Linked DNA regions of Homo sapiens: all the other regions are linked to region 2. The links come from fine-mapping of genetic effects on gene expression. A gene starts in region 2. Each other region holds a variant in brackets. All regions are shown on one strand. Distances are from middle to middle.

What was found. PIP is the estimated chance that this variant, and not a neighbour inherited with it, causes the effect. A credible set is the group of variants that fine-mapping cannot tell apart.
Region 1: its variant is the best candidate, but not a certain one, in a credible set for the expression of ITGB3BP in whole blood (INTERVAL, PIP 0.66).
Region 3: its variant is the best candidate, but not a certain one, in a credible set for the expression of ITGB3BP in coronary artery (GTEx, PIP 0.64).

Annotation. Positions count from the first base shown.
Region 1 is chr1:63,598,284-63,606,618 of GRCh38, reverse strand. All of the region lies in intron 1 of PGM1 (phosphoglucomutase 1), which reads right to left. Among named protein-coding and RNA genes, the nearest start is that of PGM1, 9.0 kb to the right of the region's middle. The variant A/C (reference allele first, on the strand shown) is at 4,270.
Region 2 is chr1:63,521,214-63,526,213 of GRCh38, reverse strand. It overlaps ITGB3BP (integrin subunit beta 3 binding protein), which reads left to right and starts at 2,989. Exons shown (of 9, transcript NM_014288.5): 1 at 2,989-3,085. The coding sequence starts at 3,081. It overlaps EFCAB7 (EF-hand calcium binding domain 7), which reads right to left and starts at 2,689. Exons shown (of 14, transcript NM_032437.4): 1 at 2,580-2,689; 2 at 455-642. The coding sequence starts at 641. RefSeq lists enhancers at 2,726-2,805, 2,967-3,590.
Region 3 is chr1:63,355,078-63,363,412 of GRCh38, reverse strand. It overlaps the pseudogene LOC441887. Among named protein-coding and RNA genes, the nearest start is that of ALG6, 8.4 kb to the left of the region's middle. The variant A/G (reference allele first, on the strand shown) is at 4,531.

The DNA of each region.
Region 1 (8,335 bases), 79 kb before region 2:
GATTAATGCGACATGAGTGCAACAGATATGTTCAATCTCTGAGAAAGGTGTGCCTTCCTCCATCTTTCTCCCCTGTTGGCATGTTAGCTGGCATGAAGGTAAGGTGGTGGGCAGCCATCCCGGACCTAGATAAGAGCAACACTCCAGGGAAGGCTGCACAACAGAAGAAAAGGGGCATGGGTCCCTGTGTATAATGGAGCCACACATCAGCCCTGGACTGCCCACACCCAGGATATGAAAGGAAGGGTTCCATTACTATCAACTTTTAAGTACTTTATTTGGAAACTCTGCTAACAGCAGCCAAACCTACATTTTAACAAAAAAGTTGGTATTCTGTACCAAAACAGAATCTAAAACATTGGCATCAGCATGCTTTTTATGGCATGGAAAAATTTGTTGCCTCTGATAGCATGGAAGGCAGACCACTGGCCAACCAAATTTGTAGCTTGAGACAAATGGTTGGCAGAATTCAGAACATGAGTGCTTGTCAACTACCTCTTGCTACAATAAAGACGGGAGCTCAGGCAAGGGCTGGCCATTCTGCAGAGAGAAATAAAGGCAGGTTGGGTTCTGCTAAGGGAAGTTTTGTTTTTTGTTTTTACTGTGGCCTGCAAATGATACCGTCCAAGTCCAGGAATTTGTGCCATCACAGAGTTGAGATGACAACTATTTGTGAAACCAAGTTAAATCAGCTATACAGTAAGCAGCAGGCTTAGCAGAGAAGGCTGTGTCTAAAATCTTTCCCAGGGCTAGGTGCGGTGGCTCACACCTGTAATTCTGACACTTTGAGAAGCCAAGGTGGGTGGATTGCTTGAGCTCAGAAGCTGGAGACCAGCTTGGGCAACATGGCAAAACCTCATCTTTACAAAAATACAAAAAATTAGCCAGGTGTAGTGGTGCATGCCTGTAGTCCCAGGCTGAGGCTCAGGTGGGAGGATCACTTGAGCCTGAGAATTCGAGGCTCCAGTGAGCCATGATCACACCACTGCACTCAGCCTGGATGGCAGAGTGAGACCCTGTCTCAAAAAAATAAAAATAATAAATAATAATAAATAAAATATTCCCCAGGATTCTCTGTCAGACAATGGGAACTAGCCCACCAGCAAAATCAGATTAAGGATACTGCCTTCGTACTAGCCTATCTTTTCCACCTGTCTCAAGGTAGCCATCAGTAATAGAGAAATCAAGGGAGGCACAAAGCATCCAATAAATACAAGTCAAAGTTTTTAGGTTTCAAAACTATCTAGGTGAGAACTTTCACTGTGATTACCAGCACATGGAACTGATCAGGATAGGCCAGAAGACTACTAAATTTGTGAAGGTACTGTACAGTGAAAGAGCCAGGAGCCTGGCCTGCAAAAGTCACCCCTGCCTCTTTTCCTCCAACTTTCATCAGCAGGAAGCAGGTTACATAAGCTGTACAGCCCCAAAAGGACTTTTAGGGCCTTCTCCAATGTCCACTCTTACTCAATAAATATATTTACATGAGCAGGTGGATAGAGTTCCTCCCTGAGGGTGGAACCAGGGTTCCCTGTGGACCTACTCCACTGCCAGGACAGGAGTGTGCATTCCCAGCCAGGACAATGCGACAATGTGAACACTCCTATGGCTAGTGACTGGTCTACATATGTAAATATACAACTATATCCCCTCTCTTTACACACACACACACACACACACACACACACACACACACACACAGAGTTATGTAACTCCCTCCCTATATATATAGTTATACATAGTTATGTAGTGGGGACAGGGGGCCTGATAATTTGTCTTTAACTTTACACAAGGAGCCACACATGGGCTTGATGGAGAGAACTATGAACACTGAGTACTGACTGGGTAACTGGAAGGAATCTGGGGTGCCTCCACTGGAAAGGAGTGCTGTGTTTCAATGGGCAGGAAGAACAATGGGCATGGCTGTCTTCATGGCCAAAGAGGTGGACCATGGCACATATTTCTAGTGTTCCTTCTCTTCTTTAAGGTAACAGAACCACTCATTTTCAGGGGGCCATATGCCTCTCAATATAGAGTCTACATTTTCAGCCCTTCTTGCAAGTAAATGTGGCCTGCATGTTAGATCTTCCCAGTGGATTGTGAGCAATAGTCAGGTACACAATTTCCTGATTTTAAAGGGGGAAGACACTCTGCCCCATCTCTCCCCTGTGCCCACTAGATGAAACATGGATGTGGTAGTAGAAGCCATCTGCAACCAGATGGGCAAGGGCAACACCTTCAAGATGGCAGAGCAACAGGATTAAAGAGGCTGGGTCCCAACATCATGGATCCATCATGCTAGTCTTGGCCTGCTGACCCACAATATTCCACAAGACAGAAAAACATCTTGTTTAATCCACTGTTGTTTTGAGTGTCTGTTACAACAGCTGATTGAACCTATAAAATCGTAAAAATTCCTTATAGGCTACGTGGTGTACATCAAATTCACTTTGGAAGGCACCTCAAAGTATACTCTTTCAGAGTGGTCCAAACAGATCTGCAGCGGTAAGATCAAGCCTTGACAGGGAAATCTGAGATTTCAAATATAAGCCCGGTAGAAAGGCACAGGGCATAAGTGCTCCAAGTTGCAGGTGATGAATCATGATTGAGATGATTCTCATATGTGCACTCTGAGTAGCATCAAGAATGTGCAGTGTAGTCACATCATACAAGTATTTATCTTGCACAAATGTAACTGTTGTATATAGAACTTCCAGGGAGACAAAGAAGACAAGAGTGAAATTTAAACAGCATGGGCAATTCTGCCACCATTTCACCCAGTGACCACAGGCCCCTGCTCAGTCTTAGTCCCCACGTGCTTCTCAAAGTATGGGTATCTTGAGTGCACTTCTGCTATTTAAAGACATACCTGTTGTGTTACATGTTGTTCTCCAATGTGGTACTTTCCTATGGGACTTTAAGGATGATTTTGACTGAAGTTTCATCTTCCACTCGAACTCTAGAACCCATCCCACTGTAAAATGCAATTTCCTCTATTAACTAGATGATAGTTAATGGCTTGCCCCCATTGATCCTGGGAAGCCATCTGGTCTTACGATTCTGTTCTACTGACTCAGTTTTCATTTTTTATGTGGAACATTTAAGGAATAAAAACCAATGTGCCTCGAGGTGGATTTTGCCTCTTGTTTTACATTGTGATTCCAGAAACTGGTTTTAATTCAACCCAGTAGTGAGAAAAATAGCTCTGACTTACATAGCAAGATCTCCGCACTTCCCTACTCCACATACTCATTTCCTGCTTAAAACTGCCCAGATTAGCATTATCCTCAGCCACTCTCAGTGGGAACCTGGTATTTGGAACATGGCCCAACACCCCTTACATTCTAGGAAGAGTGGGGGCAGTTCCCAGGCTCTTTTCCTGACTTTGTGACCTGGGACACCTGAAAGGTTTGTTGTAGACAGGAAATAAGGCCATGCATGTGGCAGTAACTTGTAAAATAGAAAACATGAGGTACATTTTTAGTGCAGTTGCTCCTTGCAGAGTATGAAACAAAAATACGGAGTTGGGGGGCAGTGAGGGGAGCTTTCTCTTAAACATGCCAAATTCTCTCACCTATGGTTCTGCCTGGAACATTCCTCTCTGCTCTTCACCTTCAGGTCTGGTTTTAGTTGTCACTTCCCTACTCCCTCTGCTGGAACCAGGCACGCCTCCTTTATGCTTTCCTAGCCTCCTTTGCTCACCTCCATCCCAGTGCTGACAGCACCTTGTGGCAGTTCTCTGCTTGTCCGTAACCCACCTAGCCTCCAACACAAACCTTCACCTTAAGTCCCAAGCATGTGAGGACTGGGCCTGTATTGTTCTCTGCTGCAACCTACGAGATCACCATGAAGTTTCACCAATCAGCTCATTTTGAGCTCCCTGCCAGTTTACAATCCTCACACTTGTCGGTTTAGCCCCCAAATGGCTATGACACCATGCAGATTAAGCCCTCCGGACTCACACAATGTAGTAGCCATTTCAATTCACTCTTGAGCAACATTTCAATTCACTTGTGAGCACATTGGAGTACAACATACAGGACTAATATTTGGTCAGAAGGACTTTTGTCACTTACCTCATAACTCTACATGTGGTGACCTGGTTAGAAAATACTTATTGGGCTGAATCAATCACACTCAAAGCAGCCAAGAACAAATTCATATATTAGTTGCCAAAATAAGCCATATGGTATACATGGATATTAAAACAAAATTTCACCTTCCCTGCATGCCCTTAATGGCAGTTTAAAAAGAAGAAACTTAAATCTG[A/C]GAAGATTCTTGTATAATATAGATGGTCCTATCAACCCAGCATGGTATAGATTGGTATTTCCCAAAATTCTTCTGTTTGGGGTCCTTTTACAAACTCTCAGTACTCATATATTAAAAGCTCTGAAACTCCTACTTAACATTGCCCAAGCCAGTTTCTCCATGCTATTAACCAGCATATTATAACAATCCCCAGAACTACTTGCTCTGGGATATATTTATTTATGGAAAAGACCAACCAGATGAAATATCAGAAGACTGGAGTCCCTGTTCCAACACCATTAGCATACTGGACAAGTCAACCAAATATTTCTGTCCTACCACCTATCGCATTTCATCCTTCAAAAACACTTTGGGGTACTCATAGAGAAAAAAAGAACATCTTTCCAATATGAAAACATAATTTTCCAAGTGTTTCTGATTCATGATTAAATCTTTATTGGCATGACTTAATTAGCATTCCCCACTGTGTTAATTCAGGGCTGTCTTTATGCCTTGGGGAATCAGCTCAGTGGTGATTTGGAGAAGCTATGGGAAGGAGGACTTCCAACAGCTGAAGTTTAAAAAACTAAACAAAACAAAACCCAGCTTACATCCATCCGCGTATCCCAACACTAAGCACAGCCTTCTCACCCTTTCCAAACAACTCCCTATGCTGCCCCCTTGTGATTTCTTTCCCCTTTGAGGACCCCAGGGGAGAAAAGTCTTCTCCGCAGTCCTCCCAACTGAAGCCCTCGGCTAGCCATTACTTACTTAACACACTCAGGAGCCATTTTTCAAAGGTGGATCCCAACTGTGAGCACAGCTTCAAAGTCAGCAGAATAACTGGCTATGTCTGTGTGGGCCTCAAGGGAACTTGGAGGAGAATAAAGGGATCAGTTCAAACTTTCCTGCTTCACTTTCTTAGAAGTGTAGCTCACTCAAATCAATCTGCTGAAAGCTCTTCTAAAGTCTAAAGGGGTCCAGACTACACCACTGTGACATAAAAATTATTTTGAGCCAGTCATTTAAAAATAGGCTTTTTACTAAACTCCTTCATCTGTCTTAAAAGCAGTGTGCCCCAAAGGAACTCTGGAGTTTCACAACCAGGGAAGATCGACTCATTACCATAACTAAATAGACACTGGCATAAAACTACCACATCTCCTATCTAGTCTCTTAAGGGCTGATTTATCTCTCCTAAAGTCGTGGTTTCCAGCAAATGCTCTTCTCCTCTTCCGCCTTCCCCTACTGAGATGATGTATAGGCCCCCAAGTCTAACTGCCTCCTGTCACATTTTTCTGTAAACTCCCACAAATGTCTTTTTGTTGCTCATTTGTCTTTTACATTTAATTTGCAAGCCCCCAGTATATAACCTAGGAGGGTAGATGAAAAGTTTTCCCTACCCTAGAGTCCAAGAGAGAAAAAAATTATTGTTAAATATTTGATCAATGTTGATTACACATCTTATTATCCCAAGATAAATTTATAATAGAATAATACTTATAATCTATATGCAAAATGTCATAGTATATTGGGACCCTTTGTACGATAAAATGTATGCTACATTTATTTACCTGAGGCATAATTTTATAACATTAAATGATTATATGTGTTTATCCTTTCCATCTAACTCTTCCTCTGTCTGGAAGTCTTTTCACGGATATCTGCATGGCTCACTCCTTCACTTCATTCAGGTCTCTGCTCTCATGAGGTTTATCAGACATCCCAATTGCTGCACTAAAAAGAGCAGCCCATCCTCTAATGCTGTCCCCTTTACTGGGTTTTATTTTTCTTCAGAGAACTTATCTTCATTTGACACGTTTATCATCTGTCAGGCTCAACGAGAACCCCACAGCTCTGTAGAGCAGAAACTTTGTTCAATTCACTGTTGTATCCGTAGTACCGAGAACCTAATAGGTGCTCAATAAATATTTATTGAATGAGTCACTCTTTCCAAAACAGTAGAGCACTCTTCCCTGTTATCTTGTTTACAAAAACAAAACAAACCCTCTATCTCAGAAAGGGAGAACGTTTTTCTTTTTCTTCTACAAAATTTCATGAGCATTAGATTTGATTAAAAAAGAAAAAGGAAAAAGATGTTTCACCAAGAGCATTAGTGAAGCCAAGAAAGAAAAAGTCCCAAGCAAGCTGATTTAAGTATTTTATGTAACAAAGATTGTTTAGTGACTAAGTGTCCGGCTCTAAAAAAGAGTCCTGCCTATTCTCTCTTTCTCACTTCTCTCGGCAGGTCCCCTTCCTGAAGGGTAGCCCCATCTTCTATCGCACACTATCCGCTCTTCAAGACATAATTGGTTTTAGGTGCAGGCACCTCTTCTTTCCCAATCCAAAATGTTCTCTCTCTCGCTGAGCTCAGCATGTTTTCTAATTCTGTTCTTTGTATGTCTATGTGTTTCTTCTGTCTTATCTCCCCCAAAAGATTGTATGCTCCTGGATGGAAAGGACAATAGGTTATCCATACTGGCATTCAGTGCTGATTCAAAATCAGAAAGTGTAAACAAGGGGAGAACAATTGTTCAAAGCCCACCATAATTCATTTTATATTTATTTATTTATTTATTTTTGAGACAGGGTCTTGCCATCGCCAAGGCTGGAGTGCAGTGGTGCAATCACAGCTCACTGAAGCCTTGACCTCACAGGGTGAATGTGATCCTCCTACCTCAGTGTCTCAAGTAGCCGAGACCACAGGCGCCCGAAACCACACCAGATTAAGTTTTTTTATTTTTTGTAGACAAGGGGTTTCACCATGTTGTCCAAGCTGGTTTGGAACTCCTGGGCTCAAGTGACCCACTCAAGTGCGGTAAGCCACCATGCCCGGCCCCACCATAATTAAAAAGTGGTTTTTTTTTTTTTTAAAGTGGGGGTTACAGCATGTTAAAAAGTGACTTGGGCCGGGTGTGGTGGCTCACGCCTGTAATCCCAGCACTTTGTGAGGCCGAGGCGGGCGGATGATGAGGTCAAGAGATCCAGACCATCCTGGCCAACATGGTGAAACCTCGTTTCTACTAAAAATACAAAAATTAGCTGGGTATGGTGGTGCACGCCTGTAGTCCCACCTACTCAGGAGGCTGAGGCAGAAGAATCACTTGAACCCAGGAGGCGGAGGTTACAGTGAGCCAAGATCCTGCAACTGCACTCCAGCCTAGGGCAACAGAGCAAGACAGTGTCTCAAAAAAAAAAGTGACTTGAAGGTGTTTCTCTGCCAAGTCATCCCTGCCCCAGGGATATAAGGTTTAAAGTTAAAGTAGCAAGGTGTCTCCACCTAACTCCAACTACCCAAGAGTCTCAAAACCTTCCCCTTCCTGCTCAGTGTTCTTTTATTTCCTTTTCAAGAAATGTGAACTGCTATAGCCAGAAACATGTTCCTTCAGCAGTGTTTGCAGATGGATCTCATGAAAGTTCAGAAAAGGGTGGTTCACTTCAAGCGGGAGACAGTGGAGTTCCTCCACTATAAGGCGAAGTTTGCAAAGTCCCACTAGTTTGCTCTGAGAACATGAGACCCTTAACCTCTGGGTCATGTGTTTGAGGTCCATTTTGGTGCAGGCATCACCTGATGCTAAAAAAGGATCATTGTTTAGTGTGGGGTTCTTAACTTGGGATGCTTACATCCCCTTCCCCTACCTCAAGAGGTCCTTGGGTAGAATTCAATGGGATCCATGAATATGAATGACAAAATAAACAAAACAATCTTTATTTTCACTAACATCTAACTGAAATTTAGCACCTCCTTTTATTATAAATGTAGGAAGCAAACCACAGTATTATTACTACTACTGCTACTATTACTACTACTACCTAGGAATTTATCATCAATAAAAATTATATTTTCATATCCTATTATAGTTATCTCAAAATACTGAGATTGCAGACGTCTCAAAACATCATTTATACTCACCACTACTTTGAAGTAAGGCAGTATTAAATCCTCCACAAATCTTCCTATGTCAGTAAAGAAGCATTATCTTGATATATCACAAATCTGGTTTTTTAATATTTTGATTATACTTCAATATAATTTTGCTTCCTTTGTAATGGTTTGTATTTTGTTTTATTCACTTAAAAATAAAAA
Region 2 (5,000 bases):
AAATAAAAAAACCCCAACTCAATTCTCTTTTAAAAGTTCACTTATCTCTCAGTACTTCACTTTTTCAGACATTCCACCCATTTTTACACATCCTTTACACTTTCCTCAGTATGGGTCAAATTCAGGCTAGTGACTTAAGAGGCCAAAAGCGTTTTAATTTTATTATGATAAATCTTAAAGCACCAAAATGAGAATTAAAAGTATCTTAAGCAAGTAGTAATTGATAGAAGCTTTCAATTACCCATCTAGTTTGTATAAACATTGAAAGTTTTATTTTGTAGTTCCTAGAATATGTAACTATATGATATGACATAATAGCTTACTGTAGTTCCATTGCTCAAGCTTCACTAAGAAACTGGGATGATTCAACAAGGTAATTCTAATTTCAGTCTTTCGGACCTATTTATTAACTTTCAACAAAAAGGTGAAAGATTTAAAAATTTTAAAAATTTACCTAAGTAAAGTTGATCTTTAGAAATAATGTTTTCCAAGCTGCTTTTGAAGACAGTTAAGTAGGCAGCTCTACAATTCATATAAAATATTTCCTCTTCAGTTAGTGGAAATTTCTTTGTTCGAGGACTCTCTGAAGGTGTTGATTTCTGACTGGAGAAAGTTGCATCGCTTCGTGGACTGATCGCCATTCTATTGGAAAATAATTTAAAAATGTGTTTGTCAATGTGAGTCACTAAAACACAAATGTCACCATGTCTTTCAAATACAGGGAGGAGAATCAAGATTTTATACATAGAAGAAAATTTATAACATATATGAAAAGATCAAGATATTAAAAGTTTTATATGTGGAAGTAAAAGACGAATACTATAGTTGTATATGGACGTATTATATATTAAACAAGAATAAGCCTTTGGCAGTTAATTTCTAATTTTAGATATATACATATGTATATATATAATTGTTCAAATATGTGATAATAGCCAAAAGAACAAAGATATACACAAGAGAAGAATCACTGAACAAAGGAAGAGCACACATCTATTCTCTCAAAATACGAAAGTCAGATGACAGTCTTCATCAGGTTTTTAAGAGGAGCAAATCAGTTAATACATGTGAAGCATATACAATATTGCTTGACACGTAGTAAGTGCTAAATAAACTGCAGATAATGAGAAACTCCAGAATAATGAGAATCGGGATATGAGTGGTAGTTGACACCCATCTTCCACAGCAGGATCAACAAGATCATTTCATTAACATCTCAATAATGCAGCCCCACATTTCAAATAGCTATATTTTAAAAGTCTTATTTATAGCATTATCATAGTTTTACTGTGTTCCTTTATTAATAACAATATTTGGGGTTTGTATAGCACCTCTGTACATAAGAGCTTAAAGAACTGTCATACATCTTGTCTTATCCCTATTACAGCGGTCAGGTATTTTTTTGTCCGTTTTACAGATGAGGAAATTGAGGGGTAGCAATGTCACCCAGCTAGCAGTAAGTGGCAAAAAGCCGTAAATTTCACGAACAGTTTCTTCTTTGTTAATGTGGATATAGTACTGAACAATGGTTACTATGGGGTATTAGATTCTACTGGTGGTCTAACAGCTTCCAATATTACTCTACCCAGCTTTGACTTCTAAAAATAGATCTCCAACCTAATAAATTGAATATTTCAAGTTCAATAATAAGATAACACAGGTAGGGTCCCCTTCAGGACTCATTGCATTCCTACTCAGGAGGCCTAAATCACTTGCACCTTTTCGAATTATATAGATCATTTACACTTGGGAAAGAAAGATAATAATTGCTTATCATGGATGAAGTACCCTATTTATAATACGCAGGCCGCCTGCCTGACACTTTCATATTACACCAGATTTAGAAGGACCCCACAGGGATGTGGTGTCACAGTCTGGTTACTGCAAATTGGTAATACTATAATTAAGCATCAGAGTTCTAAACACATATGTGTGCATGCATCTCCTCACAAATGTGAAAGAAAACTGTTTCAAGAAGTAAGGGAGAATGAATTTCACTTTGCAATAAGCAATTTTAAAATATAAGTATATTTTAGGATCGTCCTCAAATATTCTTTCCAAACAAGGCAACTCCCTCACATGGAAATCCCAAGGCAGAAATGTGCCAGAATTTTATTCTTTTCCTTTCTGTGACGAGAAACCAAACTAAAGCTTAAATAAACATATAATTGCACCCCCCGCAGGCTTGGAAACCTCCCTTACTTAAAACTCCGGCCCGAGACTGAGACAGGGGCCTAGAGAGTACATTGCAGCAAACGGCTCCATAAATAACCAGCCACACAATAGCAAGAAAAATAAACTGTTAACAAGCGCCTAAGGCTTCTACAGGGCCAAGTGAAAACAGAAAGCCGTCCAGTCACCGTCCCTACACAGTGAAATACCGTCACAGGTAATCTCGGGCACCATCTCTCTATTTTTGTATTCCTCTGGAAATAAAACCGCATTTACATGTACATTTTAGGTACATACATGGACCAAATGTTTATGACAGAGAAGTAGACAAAGCAGAGGAAGGAGAAGCAGCTGCACAGAGAGGGACAGAGGGAGCGAAGAGACAGAGACAGCGAGCTGTTTGCTACCTAATTCTAGCTCACAAACAAGGAAGCGCAGCCAATTCTCTTCGGCGATTCAGCGTTCCTCTCACCGCAGCTGGACAGATCTCGGCCTTTCTCTAATCACCATGGCAACTGCACCTCACCGCCACCGGAAATAAGATGCAGAGCCCTTCTCCAAACGATCCGGCTAGAAATCTAGGAAGCGCTGATCCGGAGCGCACAGAGACAGCTGTGTTGCTCCTCTATCGCGGGGGTGGTATGGCCAGAGTAGTGAGAGAAGGTGCTCTGTTACACCAGCAGGAAATAGGTGCTGTCCTGGGCCTAGAACTCCCCGCTCGCTCCTTTGCTCGCGCACACCCGGATCCTTCGTCGCGGGGAGGATGTTTCCGCCCGGCCGCGGTGGGCTTGACGCAACGTCCAGCGCGCGCTTTTCATGCCTTGGCGTTTCCTTTGGCGGATTTTCTGTTTTCGGAAGTTGCTGGGTTCGTTTTATTCAGCGGCAGTGGTGCTTTCCCGAATCTCAGAATGCCGTAGGTATCTCCTCCCCAGGTATTGCTGTTTTGGGGGCCCTCTGCAAGAAGAGAAGATATTATGTGGCCCAGTAGCCTTTCTCGTTTTCCTATTTTTTCGGAGTATGAACTTGTCTCCTCTGTCCACAGGCAATTCCCTTCGCTTGGTACCCTCAACTCTACGTCTCCTCCAGCGGTACTCATACGATAGTCCTCCTTCGCTTTCTGTTTCTACGATGCTTTTGACAGATTTCGTAAACTGTGGGCTGTATTTAGGTGATGTCTAACTTGAAATAACATAAATAAGGTTGACACACAGGATGGGACAGAGTAGATGAAAACACGCCTTCGTAGTTTGTCAGTCCCTTGCCTTCATTAATGTGGCGCGTTCGTGTAAACCCGTGGGAGAACTCATGGACTGAGTGGGTCTAGATACCTGGATTCCAGATAAGACTCTTTCACTGTTGGGCAAGTCACTTATCGACCCTGAGCTTCGTTTTTTTTTACTTACACAAATAAGTTTGTACTGCATGATCTCTAAATTCCCATCTATGACCAATAATCTGATTATTGAGAATGACCATAGTGGGAATAGGCATTGTGCTAGATAAGATTCATCTGTTTTTCATATCCTTCATCCATCCTATATTGAGATGCATAAAATAGTTGCTACCCTATAGAAACTTAAAAAAGCCATTAAAGGTTGGGGGAGTGGGGTGGATATCAAACACCTGTAATTTCTCCTTGGCCGTCCTTGTCCTCAGGTTGATTTAGGTACCCCCTCTAGTGTAACCTGTTCCTTAGTTTATTTCAGGATTAAGTAAAATGCAAAGTAACACAGCTGGGGAAATTTTTGTATCAAATAGGAATTGACATGAAAGGGGAAAGCTGTACAGAAATGATAACCTATATTTATTGAATCTTGAATTACAATGTGGGTGCTGTATTAATCAATTTATCTACGTTTTTTCATTGAATCCTAAAATACTTTAGGGGATGGGGGCTGCTATTATCTTTACAGATAAAGAAACCCATCACCTAATAGGGTGTTCAACACAGCTGCCAATAAATGCATGTTTTACTGATGCCCTTAAAAGTTATGGATTATTGAGGAGGTTTTCCTTTCCCCAGAATTAAGCAAAGAGACTTGTTTCCCTACTCTTGCATTAGAAAAATCATCCAGTTCTCAAATAAACAAAGCTGCAAAGATAATGTCACACAATCACACACACAAAATCCCTAAGAATACAGTGAAAACAGAGGTGTATTTGCCAAACAAGTGGTAATACCTCCTGAACTGTGTGTATCTGTGTATAGGAGTGGGGAACCAAAAAACTATGAAAAGTGGAACTTTTTTTTTCTTTTTTTGAGGCAGAGTCTGGCTCTGTTGCCCAGGCTGGAGTGCAGTGCTGTGATCACAGCTCACTGCAGCCTCTACCTCCTGGGCTCCCACATGCCACCATGCCTAATTTTTTTATTTTGTAAAGACAGTGTCTCCCTGTGTTGCCCAGCCTGGTCTTGAAGTCCTGGGCTTAAGTGATCCTTCCACCTCAGCCTCCCAATGTGCTGGGACTATAGGAGTTAGCCACTGTGTCAGGCCTAAAAGTGGACCTTTTTGACAACTGTCTTCCTAACATATGCACACAAGATGTTATATTAGGCTTTTAGATAAGTATATTCTGGTAATAAATACACAACCTTAAAGTTGAGGTTAACATCTCACATATATAGCTAATATATATGTGAAACTAGCAATTACTTTGCTAATTTTCTAAGTTTTAGCAAAGTGATTTAAGACTAAATCAACAGTTAAGTAATGCATAAAACGTAATGGCATGTTAGTAGAGAATCTCCATCATTGTTAGTAAATTAAGTGTTTTTTTTTTTTTTAATGTGGTTACTGGTGAGGTCATAAATGAGTGGTGCAAATAGTTAT
Region 3 (8,335 bases), 160 kb after region 2:
CAGATGGGAAAGAATATGAAATGAATACTATTAATCTCTAAAGTCAGTTTGACTAATAGGTGATGGCTTCAATTATCTACTGCTGTGTAACAAATTACTCCAAAATTTAGCGGCTTATATAGCAATGATTTTATTTGCTCATGTTTCTATGGATCAAGAATCTAGGCAGGGTTCAGGTAGGTGGTTCATCTGTTCCACTGGGATTGTCTGAGGTCACTCATGAGGCTGCATTCAGCTGGGAGATCAGCTCAGGCTGAAACATCCGTGAACAGCTTCAGCCCTCTCTCCACAGGGCTTCTCTCTTCAGAAAGTTTCGCAAACTTTTTACACGGCAGCTCACTTCCCAGAGAGAGCATTCCAAGCGGCAAAGGCAAAAGTTGCAGATCTCTTACACCCCAGCCTTACAAGTCACACAGCAACCTAGCCATGATACAAGGAGAGTGGAAATAGATTCTGCCTCTCAGTGGGAAGGTAGGAAAGAATTTCCGGCCATCTGTAATCCACTACAGAAAAGTTGGGATGAAACTAGAAATGGGCAAGAGCCCAACTAACAATTTTATTTCTCACCAGCCAAAAAATCAGAGTTCAAATCCCCTTACTTACTTGTCTTTCTGCCATGTCTTTTGCAAAAGGAGCAACCTCTGGTGGCCATTTCATGTATGTAGAGTAAAGATAATCTCATGGTACAAATTGCATATAACTTGTTTTGGCCTGAATTGTAGCCCTCAAAATTCATATGTTGAAGTCCTAATCCCCAGTGCCTTAGAATGTGACTATATTTGGAAATAGGGATTTTAAAGAGGTAATTAATATTAAGTGAGGACATTAGGATGGGCCCTAGCCCAACATGCCTGGATCCTTGCAAGAATGGAAATTTGAACACAGATATGCATGCGCACAGAAGAAAGACCATGTGAAGACAGGAGAATAGGGCCATCTGCAAGACAAGGAGAGAGGCTTCAAAAGAAATCAACCCTGCAGACACTTTGATCTCTGACTTCAAGCCTCCAGAACTCTGAGAAAATAAATTTCTGTTGTTTAAGCCACGCAGCCTGTGCTATTTTGTTACAGCAACCTTAACAAACTATTATATACTTTATTGAAGGTACTGTCAATATTTAATCAGCTAGGCAAACTTCCTCACACAAATCATACTTTTATAATAGTTTCTAGTCCCTTTCCTAGATCACTTCCACTCAGTAAGAAAACAAGCCCTTTTCTATATAAGTTTCAGATCTTCTCTGATTTTAACTGAAAGCCATTCACCTGATCATAACTATTCTTTTAAATAGAATCTATTTTCTTATCAGTACCTGTTCCTTAATTGACCCTTTTATGGGTCAAAATGACTCATTTTCCATTATTCTGTAACCTCTAAGTCTCATTATACTCTTGCCCCATGTAGGGCATAAGTTCACCTGAGTAGCAGAATGTTAGAGTTAAACTTACATTGTCATGTTTCAGTATAGGCATTAGCCAAAGTCTTTCATATCCAGCTCACTTGATCTTCACAGTAACTCTGAGACAATGGTAGAACAGGTGTTATTATCCCCTTCTGACATATAAGAAAACTTGAGAGTGACATTTCCCCAAAGCATGTTCTACAGAACTCTCATTCAGTGAGATAATAACTATTGTCACACACAAAAAACAGGAAGGTTCTAGGCTCCCTAGTTGCAGACTGCTGTTCTGGTGTCTCTGATGCCCAAATGTTCTCTCTCTCTTTCTTTTTTTTTTTTTTTTTTTGAGACAGAATCTCATTCTGTTGCCTAGGCTGGAGCGCAGGGGCACGATCTCGACTTACTGCAACCTCCATCTCCCATGTTCAAGCAATTCTCCTGCCTCAGCCTCCCGAGTAGCTGGGATTACAGTCATGTGCCACCACACTTGGCTAATTTTTGTCTTTTTAGTAGAGATGGGGTTTCACCATGTTGGCCAGGTTGGTCTCAAACTCCTGACCTCAGGTGATCTGCCCACCTCAGCCTCCCAAAGTGCTAGGATTATAGGCATGAGCTATCACGCCAGGCCAACAAAATCTCTCTCTAAAGGCTACCATAGTAAGTAACACTTCCTTTACTCAATATCATTTATTCGTCAAATGTTTTCTGAGCATCTGCTCTGTCTATGCCAGATGCAGAGCCATGTGCTAATAGAAACCAGACAAGTTAGACTTGGTGGCTGCCCATCAGAACTTCACTTCTAGGGAAGCTAGAAGTCTAACTGTACACCATGGGAAGGAGAGTCTTTCAAGGAACAAGGAAATGTATATTATGCCAAGAAATACTACAATGAAGCTTATAATTATTATACAAAAGCCATAGGCATATGTCCTAAAAATGCTAGCTACTACAGTAATCAAGCAGCCACATCGATTATGCTTGGAAGGTTCCAGGAAGCTCTTGGAGATGCACACCAGTCATTGAGATTGGATGACAGTTTTGTTCAGGGACATCTAGGAGGGGGCAAGTGCCCCCTCTCTCTAGAGAATGCCATGGCCACATGTTAGTTTCCAGAGAGCCCTAGAACTGGATCATAAAAATGCTCAGGAATAACAGGAGTTCAAGAATGCCAATTCAATAATGGAATATGAGAAGTTAGCAAAAACAGATTTTGAGAAGCATGATATTAGGAAGGTTGTTCTCTGCATGGACTGTGCCCGAGCACTTGCCCCTGCCTGCCATTGCTTCAAAATCCTCAAAGCAGAATATTTAGTAATGCTGGGTCATTATCCAGAAGCACAATCTGTGGCCAGTGACATTTTACAAATGGAGTCCACCAATGCAGATCCTCTGTATGTATAAGGTCTTTGCCTTTATTATGAAGATTGTATTGACAAGTCATTTCAGTTTTTGTATAGGCTCTTAGGATGGCTCCATGAGAGGGCCTGCGTTGCTTGCAGAAATCCCAAAGCACTCAAAGCAAAGAAAGAAGACAGAAATAAAGCATTTAAGGAAGGAAATTACAAGCTAGCATACGAACTGTACACATGACCCCTGGGGATAAACCCCAACAATATAAAAACTAAGCTAAACTCTACTATAATTGGGTTATGGTTAATTCTAAGCTTAGGAAACTAGATAATGCAATACAAGACTGCACAAATACAGTGAAGCTCAATGACACCTATTTAAAAGCCTGCTTGAGAAGAGCTCAGTGTTACATGAACACCAAACAGTATGAAGAAGCAGTGCACAATTATGAAAAAGTGTATCAGACAGAGAAAACAAAAGAACACAAACAGCTCCTAAAAAATGCACAGCTGAAACTGAAGAAGAGTAAGAAGAAAGATTACTACAAGATTCTGGGAGTGGACAATAATGCCTCTGAGGACGAGACCAAGAAAGCTTATCACAAATGGGCCTTGATGCACCATCCAGATTGGCACAGTGGAGGCAGTGCTGAGGTTCAGAAGGAGGAGGGGAAGTTCAAGGAAATTGGAGAGGCCTTTACCATCTTCTCTGATCCCAAGAAAAAGACTCGCTAGGACAGTGGACAGGACCTGGACAAGGAGGGCATGAATATGGGTGATTTTGATGCAAATAGTATCTTCAAGGCATTCTTCAGTGGTCTTGGGGCTTCAGCTTTGAAGCGTCTGGTCCAGGGAATTTTTTTCTATTTGCCTAATGAAGGGCAACCACCTAGAACCCAGAAAATGCAGAGTCACTCAGTTTAATCTTGAATGTGGATGCAATTCACATCATGTCTCCGTGTACTTACTGCAGTTCTGTTTTCTCAGTTGGACATCCAGTGTCTGTGTGAATGGGGTGACGGATAACGAACCAGTGTCAAAGACTGCAATTAGGGGATGGAGGTAGGCAGATGGACAAGGAAGCAGCTTGTGAATTTTTATTTTACTCTTTAACTTTATTAAAACAGAAAAAAAAAAGAAGAGAAAAAAAGGTGTGAGGACAGTCTCTTCATACAGACAAATAAATTTTATTTATTTATTTTTTGAGACAGAGTTTCACTCTATCATCCAGGCTGCAGTGTAGTGGCGCAATCTCAGCTTACTGCAACCTCCGCCTCCTGGGTTCAAGCAATACTCTTGCCTTAGCCTCCTCAGTAGCTGGGATTACAGGCGCCCACCACCATACCTAGCTAATTTTTCTATTTTTAGTAGAGATGAGGTTTCACCATGTTGGCCAGGCTGGTCTCGAACTCCTGACCTCAGGTGATCCGCTTGCCTTGGCCTCCCAAAGTGCTGGGATTACAGGCGTGAGCCATCACACCCGGCCCAGACAAATAAATTTTAAAACACTAGGTTACACAAATCTAAGGAAGAAAGCTTCCTTACTTCAGATCTTCTTGGTGCCTGTTTTTTAAGGCAGGGTCTCACTATGTTGCCAGGCTACCCTCAAAATCCTGGCTTAAGGTAATCCTCCTGCCTCAGCCTCCCAAGAAGCTAGGAGTATAAGCACATGCCACTGCACCTGGCTTTCAAAGCCTTTTATATGTTATGTACATCATGATTCTCCAAGAGAATATAGGATTTTTAGACTCATGTGACTATAGACTCCTATCTTCACACCC[A/G]CCCCACCTCCCACTTCTCGCCCTGAAGAATGGTCCATGAAACACACTTTTGGAAATGCTGGTGTGAGACACTGCACAATTTCCCTAAGAGATACAGCAGATAAGTATCTGAACATAGATCTTAGCTAACTTTTATTCATTTTTAGGGCTATTTAAAGGAAGTCAGAATATGAAATTTGCTGATTAAATTAATGATAAAGCAAAATTAAAATGGAAAAAATAAATTCCTAAAATTCAAAAATAAAGTGAAATAAAATAACTTAACTATATATCCAGCTGATGGCTCTGCTACACAAAGAGACTGTTCCAAGTGACTTTAAAACATATAATTTAGCCAGCATAATGGCCCAGCTGTAATCCCAGTTACTTGGGAGGCTGTGAGGCAGAAGGATCACTTCAGCCCAGGAGTTTGAGGCCAGCCTGGGCAACATAACGAGACTCCATTAAAAAAAAAGAAGAAGAATAAACAGAAAAAACACAGTAGGGCCTAGGTGCAGTGGCTCATGCCTGCTATCCCAGCACTTTGGGAGGCACAGGCACGAGGATCACTTGAGCCCAGCAGTTCAAGACCAGCCTGGACAACATAGGGAGATCCCATCTCTACAAAAAAATTTAAAAAATTATCTGGGTGTGGTGGCACACACCTGTGGTCCCAGCTACTTGGGAGGCTGAGGTGGGAGGATCACATGAAGCCCAGGAGGTTGAGGATGAGGTGAGCCATGATTGTGCAACTGCACTCCAGCCTAGACGACACAGTAAGATCCTGTCTCAAAGAAACGAAAAGGAAAAAACACAGTAATTTGATGGTTAATTCCTAGTTTGATATACCTTAAGGGAAAAAAAAATCTGTTAAAATAATTAAATAATTGTTAGTAATCGTATTGTGGGTATTAGGGTTGGAATTGTTATTCTGAGACTACTATATGTGTAAAGTGGGATAAAGAAAATGAAGATATATATGCTATTCAAATTCCATCATGGCTGGTGTTTAGAGACCATGATTCTTGGCATGGGAAAAATGAGTTAAACATGAAAGATAAGGTTAAATATTTCTTTGTTTTTCTTTTTTTCTTTTTTTTGAGACAGAATCTTGCTCTGTCACCCAGGCTGGAGTGCAGTGGAATATCTCAGCTCACTGCAGCCTCTGCCTCCCAGGTTCAAAGCGATTCTCCCGCCTCAGCCTCCCGAGTAGCTGGGACTACAGGCACACACCACTACCCCCGGCTAATTTTTTTGTATTTTCAGTAGAAAATGGGGTTTCACCACGTTGGCCAGGCTGGTCTCAAACTCCTGACCTCAAGCCATCTGCCCGCCTTGGCCTCCTAAAGTGCTGGGATTACAGGCTTGAGCCACCGCGCCCAGCCTAGAAGTTAAATATTGATATACATTCAGGGTTTATTTTATAGAATTACTGGAAGGAAGAAAGGAAAAAAGAAAGAAGGGAGGGAGGGAATGAAGGAGGGAGAGAGGAAGAAAGGAAATTAAAAGTAGGCCGGGCACAGTAGCTGACGCCTGGAATCTCAGCCCTTTGGGAGGCCGAGGTAGGCGGATCACTTGAGGCCAGGAGTTAGAGATCAGCCTGGCCAACATGGTGAAACCCCATCTCTATTAAAAATAAAAAAAAATAGCCGGGTGTGGTGGCGTGCACCTATAATCCCAGCTACTTGGGAGGCTGAGGTATGAGAATCGCTTGAACCTGGGAAGCAGAGATGTCAGCGAGCCAAGATCACCCCACCACTGCACTCCAGCCTCAGAGACAGAGCGAGACTTCGTCTCAAGAAAAAAACCAATTCAGTTTTAAGTTGATTCCAATTTGGTTCCTCCAAATATAAGGTTGGTTTCCGAAGCTCCAAAAGAGATTCCTTTCATCTATAAGTCTGTTCTGTGGTTTGAAACAAGGGTGATCGTGTGTGTGTGTGTGTGTGTGTGTGTGTGTGTGTGTGTGTGTGTGAAAGAAAGGGAGAGGGAAGGGGAGGGGAAGAGGTTTCAAAATAATGAGCTGGTTTATTAGCTTCCCCATTGGTGACAATTTTTTTAAAAAGTATCATGAACTCATGGAGAATGTGACAGACAATTCACGTTCGATGTGTTTCGATCCAGTGTCGTTACTGTGCTTACTGGTGCTCAGTGTGTCCCATGGCTAGTGGGAGTCTCTTTAAGTTGGCTCCTGAGTCCTTCTGACATGACATAGCAGTCTTTACTTGGATCATAGTTTCCTTGCTATCTGGTATAACAAGATGCTCCACGTTTATTTTTGTATGTTTATTTTCCAAACCTGTAATTAGCTATTTCTTCAAGAACCCTGGTTCCTTTTAGCAGGAAATGGTATTTCAAGACCACATTCTATGTGCTGAGGATGCTCATTGCTATTGGGTTGCTTTTTGGTTTTAGTCCTTTCTGTGGAAAGAGCTAAGAAATATGCCCTTCCTTCCTTCCTTCCTTCCTTCCTTCCTTCCTTCCTTCCTTCCTTCCTTCCTTTCCTTCCTTCCTTCCTTCCTTTCCTTCCTTCCTTCCTTCTTTCCTTTCCTTCGTTCCTTTTTTGAGACAGATTCTGGCTCTGTCGCCCTGGCTAGAGTGTAGTGGTATGATCTCAGCTCACTGCAACCTCCACCTCCCAGGTTCAAGCAATTATCCTGCCTCAGCCTCCCAAGTAGCTGGGATTACAGGTGCCCACCACCACACCCAGTTTATTTTTTTATTTTTATTAAAGATGGGATTTCTCTATTGGCCAGGCTTGTCTCAAAACACCTGAGCTCAAGTGATTCACCCATCTCAGCCTCCTAAAGTCCTGGGATTACGGGCGTGAGCCACCACACCATGCCTAAAAATGAATTGTTTTCTACTGTGAATAGAGTAATTTTGATTTCTATTGTTTAAGTGATGCAAATCAAGTTAAATTTATAATTACTTGTGAACATACTCATTCATTCAACAAATATTTATTGACTAAATAGCCTGCCCTTAAGGAGCTTACACCAGTAATTTATACACAGTTCAGAAGAATATAATCATTGTTATTTTTACTGTCAATTTCAGATGCCAGCTGGAATTATTCTCATATATATACATACATACAGATGTTTCAACCATATATATGTATATAATCATACATATAAGAATAATTTTGTTTATATGGATCATAAAAAAAAGTTACATCTTTATGGATAAAAAGAGTTCTTTAATGTGACAATATAATGTATTCATTGGTTCACGGACCCCCAAACCTCCAAGGAGTGTTACAAATCTGCATCTCTCTCAGCCCGGGATCTTGAATTTAAATTTAAATCTATAATATATGGTATAACTTAGCCCAATGTATTTTTGGACAATTATAAACATCCATAATTCCCAATAATGAATAACACTGTTGGGTCAGTGCTTAAGTAGATTTGTAAAGCCAATGTGATAACACAAATGCTGCTTTATTGCTTTATCTTCAGTGTCTTTCACAACTGAGTGGATTGTCACACTCTATTATGTGGCACACAGATCCATTGGCTTAGAGCTATCATGGTGCTTATCTAAAATGGTCTTTGAAAATGAAAATTTGGGCTAAACATAAAGGAAGCAACCTGCCAGTAAGAACTATTCAAACCAAAAATTCTTCCCAAGGGAAATGGTAAGAACTCCATTTTAAAATCATATAAATCAAGATAGTAGGAGGTTCCAACTTGTAAAATTTACAGTAAATACATCAAGATTTAAAGTCTGATTTTGAAATAGATTTTTATTTATAGAAAGGGATCAAAGTCTATGCCAGTGAAACAGGGTAAAACACAAAATAAAGTCTTTTCTTCTTTCTTGA